Linked DNA regions of Homo sapiens: regions 1, 2 and 4 are each linked to region 3. The links come from fine-mapping of genetic effects on gene expression. A gene starts in region 3. Each other region holds a variant in brackets. All regions are shown on one strand. Distances are from middle to middle.

Region 1 (2,699 bases), 25 kb after region 3:
ATTCATCTAGGGGAGAGACAGTCATTGGCCCAGTGGAATTTCATCTGATTGCCAGGAGCTAGAAATCGCCAAGTAGTACTGGGGAGTGATTCAGGCTCCCACAGATAACTACAGCCAAAGGTAGTTTGTGGTACGATGTAATGACTGCAAGATTCAAAACTAGGAGTGCCTAGGGAGAACGGGAGAATAGAAACAACCATGAAAGCCAGGAGCACACCTGTCCCACTTCTGGGACCAATGGCATGACCTGATTTGGGGAAAACAGCAGTCACCATTCAGAAAGTTGGAGATGAAAGTGGTATCCTCGGGAAAGATCCGTGTTTCAGTAAAACAAGAAGGTGAAGGGAACATTCAAAGAAGAAGGGAGGGAGGGGATTTTGCTCCTTCTGGAAGGAGTTCCAGAGGCCACAGTGGGAAAGTTTCAGAAACTGGAAGGGAATGGGAGATGGGATAGAAAAGGATATTATGTACAGAACCGTACGGGAATCAGCATGGATGGCCTAAGCTTGTATTGACAGGAATGAAGATAAAGTGAGTGTGTGATGAGATTAGTGCTAATGGTGGCAAGGCTGTGTGGGTAGGATGGAATGGTGGGAATGTTGCTGGAAAGTCACAGAAATTGTCTGTGAGTGTAGGTACACATAGATACCCACATATACATGTGCACACAGTTTTACTTTGTTTTATACATATATGAATTTTATAACTTACTGTGAAGGTACTACATGTTCATTCCAGAAATTTTGATAACTGCAGAAATATATAAAGGAAGAAAATTAAAATTGCCAGTAATTCTACCATCAAGAGATAATTATCACTAACATATGATGGTTGGGTGCCGTTTCTTCCAATCAGGTTCTGGTGTGTGTTTTATTTACTTACATTTACTACATTTCCTAGTTATACAAGTAATACATGTTCTTTAAAGACATTTTGAAAAATACAGAAAAAAAAAAAGGTGAAAGTGTTTTGGAAATCAGCACTGACCAACATCAGGCTTACTTCTTTTTTAAATTTTTGCTAATTTCATAGGCAAAAAAAAACTCTCTGTATTATTTTAGTGTGCATTTATTTCATCACAAGTGAAGTTTGGTGCTTGTAAAGACTGTGTTTTCAGTGGACTTGTACAATGTTTAAATTCCTCTCCTGCAGGCTCCTGAGTCCTATAAGAATGTGACAGATGTGGTAAATACCTGCCATGATGCTGGAATCAGCAAGAAAGCCATTAAACTGAGACCAATTGCTGTGATCAAAGGATAGAACCTTGGACAGCAGGGCTGCCTGACACCACCAACCCTCTCTGAAGTGGAAGTGGACTGACATGCTCTTCTGAC[A/G]TCAGACTCAAGGCGGGACAAGTTGCAAAGTGTGCAGCTGTAACTGCTCACGCCAAAATGGCTGATGGGGAGGCTGCTGCTTTCAGGGGCCCGTGCTTGTAAAATAACCTTCCAGGAAGAGGCACATTGCCCACCTTTGGAAAGGGAGGAATATGCCTTCTCCTTGGTTGTTCCACAGAGTTTTAGGAAAATCTGTTAGGGATGGGTAGATGTCAAACTGCCTTACGCAGTCATACTGATCTTTAGCCATCAGATTGATCTTCTTCACACCAAGCTCTGTTTACATTCCGAGAGGTGTCATGAAGAAAGTTCTGTTCAATAAGGTTTTGGAATGTTTCCTTTCGTCTGTTGCTTTGTCAGTTTGTCCATTCATCCACCCATTTAGGCATCACCCCTGCACTCAGCAAAACCCTAAATACCCCTCTTACTTGGAGAGCACCCAGGGAGTTGTAATCAGGCTGTTAGATGAATGGATAGTGGAACACATTGAAGAGGGAGTATGGGGAGGTTTAAGGAATAGCGGCCCAAAAGACAAAGTCTTCATAGCTTTACTACCTTTCTTATTCTAAATACACGGCAGAGTTTTTGTATCCATGGGGCCGGGTGAACAAAATGGAGGTAGGTGGTGGTGCTGGTGATGGAGGGCACAGCAGAACCAGAGGCCTGGCCTCCCTCCTACACATGCCTTGCAGGGCTTTTTTTTTTTTTTTTTTTTTTGAGACTGAGTCTCGCTCTGTCACCCAGGCTGAAGTACAGTGGCGGAATCTCGGCTCACTGCAAGCTCCGCCTCCCAGGTTCACGCCATTCTCCTGCCTCAGCCTCCCGAGTAGCTGGGACTACAGGCGCCCGCTACCATGCCCAGCTAATTTTTTGTATTTTCAGTAGAGATGGGGTTTCACCGTGTTAGCCAGGATGGTCTTGATCTCCTGACCTCGTGATTCGCCCGCCTCAGCCTCCCAAAGTGCTGGGATTACAGGCGTGAGCCACCGCGCCTGGCCCTTGCGGGGCTTTTTATTGTGGTTCTGGGCCCCTGGCTTGTTGCTTCCTGTGTAGAGGACAGCCCCACTCCAGCCCCAGCCATCTGTGCTGTCTTGATAGGGGCAGACCTGGCCATGCAGCAGGGCTATACAGACCCTTGCGGGCCCCGGCTTCCTACTGACATTCTCTTCCCAAAGGCCCTGGCACACAGTGCTGAGCACCTGGGCACTCACAACTGCAGCTCCAGGCAGATGTGTGAGCAGGTTGCCCATCAAAACTCCAGCTCTGGGCCACTTGGTGCTTGGGTTGGGAGAGGCAGATGTGGCATGGAGGACAGGCAGAGATAGGAAACCCCTGTGCTGGGAATGGTTCTCTTGGGGGTCGGCC
Region 2 (2,748 bases), 48 kb after region 3:
AGCCGTTCTGACTGGTGTGAAATGGTATCTCATTTTGTCCCACCAGTTTTTTTAACTGTTAAGTTCAGGGGTGCATGTGCAGGTTTGTTACATAGGTCAACTTGTGTCATGGGGATTTCTTGTGCAGATTATCTTGTCACCTGGGTTTTAAGCCTAGCGCCCATTAGTTATTTTTCCTGATCCTCCCTCCTCCCACCGTCCCCCATCCGATAGCCCCGTGTGTGTTGTTCAGCTCTGTGTGTCCCTGTGAGATTGGTCATTTTTAGGTCAAATTTTACATAGTATGTTCTTTATGTGCTTTCTTCTAGAACTTTCTATGTTTTATTAACTAGGCAACTGTTGCTAAAATCTCTACTAAAAGTGGGCACATCTTTATAATAACAAATAGAAGCTTGTAAAGTTGTGATACCTTAAATTTTGCCAAGTTATGAGGGCTTTGCCTGAGACCTGGATGACAGAGTTGTGTAAGAATGTGGGTTCCTCTGAAGACTGTTGAATTTTCTGAGAATAAAGATCTTATTTGTTTCTATTACATAGGGTTAAAGCAGGGACACGGTGGTCTCTAAGGCACATAGGAGGCTCTGAGAACGGAAAATGAGATCTTTCCAAACAGTAATGCAAATCTCCATTTCTGTATTTAGGATCCCTCTGAGAGCAAGCAGGGGTTCACAGAAGGATATAGCTCACTAAGAGAAACAAATAATGGGAAACACAGGTTTATAGCATTTAGAAGAAAATACCAAGATGAACATATTAATATCTAAAGTGAGTTTTGATGAAAACAATATAAAAATTTTTAAAACTCAAAATGTAAATATCAGGACCATGTGACTTACTTTTATTTCTACCAAATAATAAAGACTGGCAATCCTGGGCACACACTTCCAGAGAATACACAGCAAACACAGCCATAGTGCTTTATCATTTTAGGAGAATCTTGATTCCACTCCTGCAATAATAGACTTGACTGGAAAGTGGAAGGACAGAAACATTCCTCTGAATGTGGAACCCAAAATCTGAAAACAAATGTTAGTGATCTAGAGGTGGACTTAAAAAAATAGGATGAAGAGTGGTATTTTATGAGAAGACTTTCAGAGGGCTCACGAGAGAGAATCAGTGGCATTTTCACTG[G/C]TGAAGGATTGGGAGAAGAGGCAGAGCCATTGGGTTAATGGAAGGGACATCTGGAGTCAGAGGGAAAGGGGGATCAGAGTGAACCTTGAATGAGAGTCCTGGGGCAGAGTCCTGGGGCAGAGGTTTCCAGGCTGTGGCTATGGAGGGTTTTTTGTTTTTTTTTTTTTTTGAGACAGAGTCTTGCTCTGTCTCCCAGACTGGAGTGCAGTGGCGCGATCTCGGCTCACTGCAAGCTCCACCCCCTGGGTTCACGCCATTCTCCTGCCTCAGCCTCCCGAGTAGCTGGGACTACAGGCGCCCGCCACCATGCCCGGCTAAATTTTTGTATTTTTAGAAGAGACGGGGTTTCACCATGTTAGCCAGGATGGTCTCGGTCTCCTGACCTCATGATCCGCCCACCTCGGCCTCCCAAAGTGCTGGAATTACAGGCATGAGCCACTGCGCCTGGCCGGAGGGGTCTTTCTGACAGGAGATAGGACTGTCCCCTGCCACGGCAAGGTCAAGAAATGGATGTGGAGTTTGTAAAATAGAAAGTGATCTTTGATGGGGAAAGAATGAGCTGATAAGGTGTACACTCCCTGCTGGTGCACCTGCTGCCCATTCTTAGCCACACCTTTTTCCAGGTGGCTCAGATCAGCAGTCAAGGAGAAAGTGGGGGTGGCAGACTAAATTCATTAAACCACCAAAGCACCAGCCCAGATGGCCTCTTTTTCAGTTAATTCGCATTAGCTACTTATTCAGGTTTGATAAGTGGGAGAGAAGTTGTTACTTGCAGAAGCATCTTGTGATAGATGTTTTGCATTGTTCTAAGGCCTGAGCAGTCTTGGAGACAGGCAGACACTGGTCGCTCACTGTGATCACTGGAGGAAACAGTTACTGAGAGGCAGCTGACAGGGTGAAGGGAGTGGGGGAGGAAGGCCACGCATTTGTGCTTCCCAAGGTCCCACAGGTGACATCCTTTAAAGGAAACTGTGTCATACTTGGGGTGGAAGATTTGAAAGGCAGAGGAAAAGAATGCTTTATAATTAGGGACCTGTCTTCATCTCAGGCGACTCTTCCCGAGCACGAACTCTGTCTTTCCACACACCTTGGGAATAAAAGTATTGGAGAAAGAGAGTGAAAGGGTCCCTTTGATCAGTGGTCCAGGGCACGATATAGAGGTCTCAGTTGTTCAGGAATCTCTGTCTCTAGGGAACCAAATTTATTCCAACCCCCAGATCCTTCACTCATTAGAATGGGATTCTGCAAATCTCTCACCATCTCTAAGTGATACTCAGCCCCTCCTGTGCCCACCCTGCCGGGCTGATGTGGGGAGTCCCGGAGATAATAGGAGATGTCCTCCAGAAGTTGTAAGGCATCACACCCACGTAAAAGATGAACAGGGAACCACCCTCCACTGGCCTGGAGCCACCCAAGCAGCCTCTCTGTGTTCAGCCACTACTAAGTCTCCGGCTTATTCCTTCTGGCATTTAGTAAACCCTTACACATCACTACTGAAGTTCTGATTCTCTTTCTTAATATTCTCCTGCATTTAGTGATTTTTCTAGCCCCATACTGTGAGATTAATAAGTAGGCCCTATGAAAAGTTTAACATGACAGCGCAGAGATCTGAGGGCC
Region 3 (2,710 bases):
AGGCCAGCCACAGTAGGCCATGCCTGTAATCCCAGCACTTTAGGAGGCCAAGGTGGGCGGATCATGAGGTCAAGAGGTCGAGACTATCCTGGCCAACATGGTGAAACCCAGTCTCTACTAAAAATACAAAAATTAACTGGGAGTGGTGGCACGCACCTGTAGTCCCAGCTGCTTGGGAGGCTGAGGCAGGAGAATCGCTTGAACCTGGGAGGCGGAGGTTGCAGTGAGCCGAGATGGCACCACTGCACTCCAGCCTGGCGACAGAGCAAGACTCCAACTCAAAAAAATAATAAAATAAAATAAGACATAGAAAAGGGAAGAGACCTAAGGTTGCACAGACATCAAGGCTTGATTTTAAAAGAGAATTCTTTACCTCTGAAATCTTTCCAAGAAGGAACAGGGTAACCACAGGAAACTCTAAAAGTTGTATCACTTCAAGCTTTGGGATTTTTCACCCACCACAGATTCAATGAAATGGCAGTGCAGAGTACTAAACTCAGACAATTCATAACTGAGAATGATATTAATGTGTCAGAGCACCTAATCAATGGGGAGAAATTGGGGCAGAAGAGAAGAAAAGCGGAACCAGTGTAGATAATGCAACAAATGAATGGAAACTACATACTGTTTTTTGCAGCACTTACAGTCTAGTGGGGGAATGGAAAGAGGAGAGCTGTTTATAGAGTGCTTGCCGTGTGCCAAGCCCCGTGCTGATTACCCCTCCAGTGTCACTTCATTTAGCCTTCTACTCAAGAAAGAATTATGATCCCATTTTAGAGATGACGAAACAGAGATAAGAGGGGTTAATCACACCAAGTCAGTAAATGGCACAGATAGAAATTGAATCTTGCGTCTTTCTAATCCCAAAGTTGCAGTTGTTGACATGAGGCCGAACTGGAAACTGAAATCACTTAAAGCTCACTTACCACTATGAACAAGAGACACGGCGTATAAAAGCATGATTAAAGAGGTCTTGATCATCAAATGCGGCTAGACTGGGGAGTTTTGGCGATCCATAAGGGCTGTGATTTGATCATTTTGTAGTATATGTCTGGCCACAATAGATGCACCCACAAGTGTTTGTCAGAATAAATGATAAGCTGCCATGCTTCATTCTTTGGGATGCTCCTTTCTGACCAAAAAAGTTATTTGGTGTATATCCAGATTCATTCTGAAACATAAATGTTCAGCTATGGTATTTACTCAAACAGGTTTTTCTTTCTCAGCTGCTGGCGTTATCTTTTTCCCCTCCCAGCTGAGGGTGTAAACTCCAAGCCAATGCACCGAACCTGACCCAGACTCAAGGTGTTTTCATAAGCTGCTGAAAAGCATTTCCAAAACAAAAGATAACTAGATTATACTTTAAACTTCTGGATTTCGCTTAGCTGTAGTTTAGAGGAAATCGACTAATAAAGATCCTAAAGTTATACACTACAGGACAGTACAACTTAACCAGAGGAAAGACATTGGCCTGAAGAATTTTGAGCCTCGGCGCTTGCCGTTGCTCATCTGCTGCGGCGCTGGTCGCGCCTGCGCTTTGGTTCTTGGAAGGCGGTGCTCTGAGAAGCCGGACTACGCGGCAGCGGCTCTTCAAAGCGGAGCCGGGAGTTTTTGCTACAGTTTTCGCCACCATGAGTCGCAGCTATAATGATGAGCTGCAGTTCTTGGAGAAGATCAATAAAAACTGCTGGAGGATCAAGAAGGGCTTCGTGCCCAACATGCAGGTAAGGCAGGAGAGCAAATGGCGGGGCCTTCCGTGCTCCGTCCCCGGCCCGGCCGGCGTCCACTGCGCCCTCTGGACCTCCCCTGACCACTGGGTCCGCCCCGGCCCCTTGCAGAGTTTCCCTCATCCCGTCCTTCTCCCCTCACGGTTCTGGGGCCGCCCAACCTGTTCCGGCACCACCTCCCGCCAGGAGAGGTCCCCGAACCACGAGGACAAGCTAAGTGCGGTGGATATGGGAATCTAAATAAATACGAAATTGGGGTTTCCAAAGCGTTTTCACAGATCAGTCTCATAAACGTATCGTGAGCTGTTTTACGTTCACAGAAACTTCAGTGATCTTTTCCAGGGTGGAACAGCCAGCCCCAGGTTCATTTGCTGGGACTGGAATTCACCTCCTCTGAGTCATGCTGGTTATTTAAATAACGTTTACAAACCTTTGTTCACTAAACCAGGTTTTCAGCATTCAGTATCGCATGTTGGTTTTTAATAAAGCGATGTCATTTCTTGCAGTAGCGCAGGGCAGGGCCTGTTTGATTTTAATATTCACTTCACAGAAGGACCTCGAGGATCTGTCGGTGACATAGCTTCCTCTACCCACCTAGGAAGAAGCTCAGCCAGGACTTGATGTCCGGTTTACTTCTTTGACGTCCCAGATGGAGACTTGAGGGCTCAGGATCATCAGATAGTTTGAAAGCCTGGGCTCTGTATCTCTCGGCCTTCATCACCATCTGTGCTCATATTTTTATTAATGTGAAAAAAGAAAACGTTTATGAAGTTTTGCAACGTATTTTTAAATAGTTTTTGAAATCCCTGAAGGTGCCAAGTAAATGCTTCAAAGGTTTACCGTCTCGTCTCACGTCTTGGTAAACAGCTCCCAATAGTCACTCCATTCTTTTATTCAGAATCAAAGCTTACTGAGTTTCCCTTGTTGGCAAGTCACTTACACTGAGGGAAGAAAAAGCGCACGGGGATAAATCTGTGTTCTGT
Region 4 (2,500 bases), 63 kb after region 3:
TAACCTCATGTAGTCATTTGTTTACAGATTAATGTTTCTACAGACTAAAGGCATCACAGTCTCCTTTAAGATTGAGTAATATTAATACAATTTGAGATATATAGGGGTAGAAGCCAACAAATTCAGAGGAAAATTGTTAAATTATATAGCTGTAGATGAGGACATGAAACCCAGGTTCTAAGCTCTAAGGGGGCCATGAGCTACCATACCAAGTGCATCAGTGACTGGGCGTAGTGTTAGCAGACTTTTACAGGATGGTTGAGTGAGCTTTGGAGCCTAACTGTATGTGTACATGAATTTTTAAACTGCGTGGCACTTCCGCGTATCCATCTTTACAATGGGGGCAGTATTAAGTTTTTCTTCTCAGTTGACTGAATTATTTCGGTAGTCTTTGTCTTGCTGTCACTCTTGATGGCCACATGAGAGGAGCTAAGGTAATTTCTGGCAGCCTGGGAGTCCTTGGGAAAAACAGAAGGTGCCAGAGACCCCATTTTAGGAGGAGCCTCTGTTTTCCTCATGGACCCCCAAGAAGTGTAAGCAGACAGGTCCCTCTCAAAACCTGGGGAAGGCTCTGCTTTGTTTTGCCTTGCTTTAGCTGACCTTTTTGTTGAGGGCGGGCATCAGAAATTAGTTGGGGAAAGAGAGCTAAAGAAAGTTGCGGATAAGAAGGTGTATTTATGGTAAAGAAGGTTATGAAGGAAAGAGATTTTATGGGAGGGAGGATTTTGTATTACAAATTCTTGTCCTAAAGTAGAATGACTATTTAGAAAAAGAGAGAAATATAGGACAAGTCAGAAAGCCATAATATGGGAAAGAAAAACTTAGAACTGCTCAATCTTGTCTAGAAGTGCTGTATGTGTGATGTTTGTATAAAGGAGTTCTAATTAACTGGCTTTAAAGAGAATGAAAGCTCTCAAATACTTCTTAAGAAAAATAGAAGCTCTAATGCCTTTTAGTTCATGTGATTTCAGTAATCTTTGGGGAATAAAGGCTTTTAAAAGTTATTGGTAAAATGAAAATGTCTTCAAAATTTAGACATTTGGTGTAAATTAAGTCAGAGGTTAAATTTGCTAAGTGCTTTAATGTCATAGACCACTTCTTTGACTTTAGAAAATTGTTCAGATTATGTGGTTTGGAGCTGTTAGATTTCTATGTAAGGCCCTGGGA[C/A]AGGTGGAGTTAGCCATGCCTCCTAGCTATGCTAGAAAGAGTTGACTTTATCTGCAGTTCTGTCTTGTATCCTAGACTCTGCACCTGGTACGTAATTAAAACTGCTTATACTAAAAAGAAATATTACCTGTTTTTGATTTTTTAAAAAAGGCGTGGGAAGGCCGGGCGCAGTGGCTCACGCCTGTAATCCCAGCACCTTGGGAGGCCAAGGTGGGTGGATCATGAGGTCAGGAGATCGAGACTATCCTGGCTAAAATGGTGAAACCCTGTCTCTACTAAAAACACAAAAAATTAGCCAGGCTGGTAACACACGCCTGTAATCCCAGCTACTCGGGAGGCTGAGGCAGGGAAATCACTTGAACCTGGGAGGCAGAGGTTGCAGTGAGCCGAATCGCACCACTGCAGTCCAGCCTGGCGACAGAGCAAGACTCTGTCTTAAAAAAACAACAACAACAAAGAGTTTTGTCTAAACTTAGAAATTTTAAGTATTATTTTTAGCTGAAAGAAAATAAAATTTAAGCAAGTTATGGGACATTTATGAAACTTAACTTTGTAAAGAATTGTGTGTCTGAGCGTGTTGACCAAAATGAAAAGGGTATTATTTAGTTCTTCCATAAATTAAATATTAAAACAGAAGGCACTGAAACAGAGCCAGAATCTGGGCCCATATGTCAAAATAATAGGGTTTTTTGGAACATTGATCAGTTCTTTAACAAGAAAAAATGTTATAAAGAGTTATAAATAGTTACGAAAATCTTACCTTATAGTCATTAATTAAAACTGGATAGATTCATAAAATTTTATTATTAAAAAGTAGCTTTAACATTAAAGATGTACTAACGTAAAAATAAAATTTGGTTTCATATTGAGTTCTTTCTTTTGAGAAATCCAAGAGCTCTCTCTGGGGTCTGGATCGGGACCCTTTTCTGGTAACACCACCACCCCCAGCTCTCCCCTCCTTCCTGGCCTCCACTGGGAGGCACTCCCCTGGAGGAGCAGCTGCTGCTGGCCCCCACCAGACTCAGCACAGAAGGCCAGGCCTGGGCTGCTGCTCTGCCCTCACCTACCCAGGAAATGAGATGGATACACACAGGAGAGTTGGCCTGGGTGGGGAGGGCATTCTGGAAGCCTGCCTTGGCTCTCTGGGTCTTTGGCCAGTAGCCACAGAAATGGAGACTCAGTTCCTTCAGCAATCTGTGTTTCTACTGCGTGTCTGGCACAGAGCGAAGTCCTGGGGTGGGGCCCTGGAGGTGTCCTGGAAAAAACGGGACACCTCCCTGTCCTCCAGGAGCTCACCCTAAGTCACAGAAGCCCATGTTTATGGAGGATTTAC

Which allele goes with the higher level. Positions count from the first base shown, and alleles are read on the strand shown. Sizes are in standard deviations (SD) of each study's normalised expression. Not every link is listed here.
In carriers of allele C in region 4, the expression in sun-exposed skin of the gene that starts at base 1,541 in region 3 tends to be lower than with A alone (small effect, 0.16 SD a copy in GTEx).

What was found. PIP is the estimated chance that this variant, and not a neighbour inherited with it, causes the effect.
Region 1: its variant is the best candidate, but not a certain one, in a credible set for the expression of RTCB in whole blood (INTERVAL, PIP 0.89).
Region 2: its variant is the best candidate, but not a certain one, in a credible set for the expression of RTCB in whole blood (INTERVAL, PIP 0.55).
Region 4: its variant is the best candidate, but not a certain one, in a credible set for the expression of RTCB in sun-exposed skin (GTEx, PIP 0.79).

What each region holds. Positions count from the first base shown.
Region 1 is chr22:32,386,553-32,389,251 of GRCh38, reverse strand. RTCB (RNA 2',3'-cyclic phosphate and 5'-OH ligase) reads left to right here. Exons shown (of 12, transcript NM_014306.5): 12 at 1,153-1,670. The coding sequence ends at 1,260. It also overlaps the pseudogene RGL4P1. Among named protein-coding and RNA genes, the nearest start is that of RFPL3S, 17 kb to the right of the region's middle. The variant A/G (reference allele first, on the strand shown) is at 1,335.
Region 2 is chr22:32,363,389-32,366,136 of GRCh38, reverse strand. All of the region lies in intron 4 of RFPL3S (RFPL3 antisense), which reads left to right. Among named protein-coding and RNA genes, the nearest start is that of RFPL3S, 6.5 kb to the left of the region's middle. The variant G/C (reference allele first, on the strand shown) is at 1,132.
Region 3 is chr22:32,411,078-32,413,787 of GRCh38, reverse strand. RTCB (RNA 2',3'-cyclic phosphate and 5'-OH ligase) reads left to right here and starts at 1,541. Exons shown (of 12, transcript NM_014306.5): 1 at 1,541-1,724. The coding sequence starts at 1,632. RefSeq lists an enhancer at 1,392-1,571.
Region 4 is chr22:32,348,099-32,350,598 of GRCh38, reverse strand. It overlaps a transcript of SLC5A4 not described here. Among named protein-coding and RNA genes, the nearest start is that of RFPL3, 8.5 kb to the left of the region's middle. The variant C/A (reference allele first, on the strand shown) is at 1,168.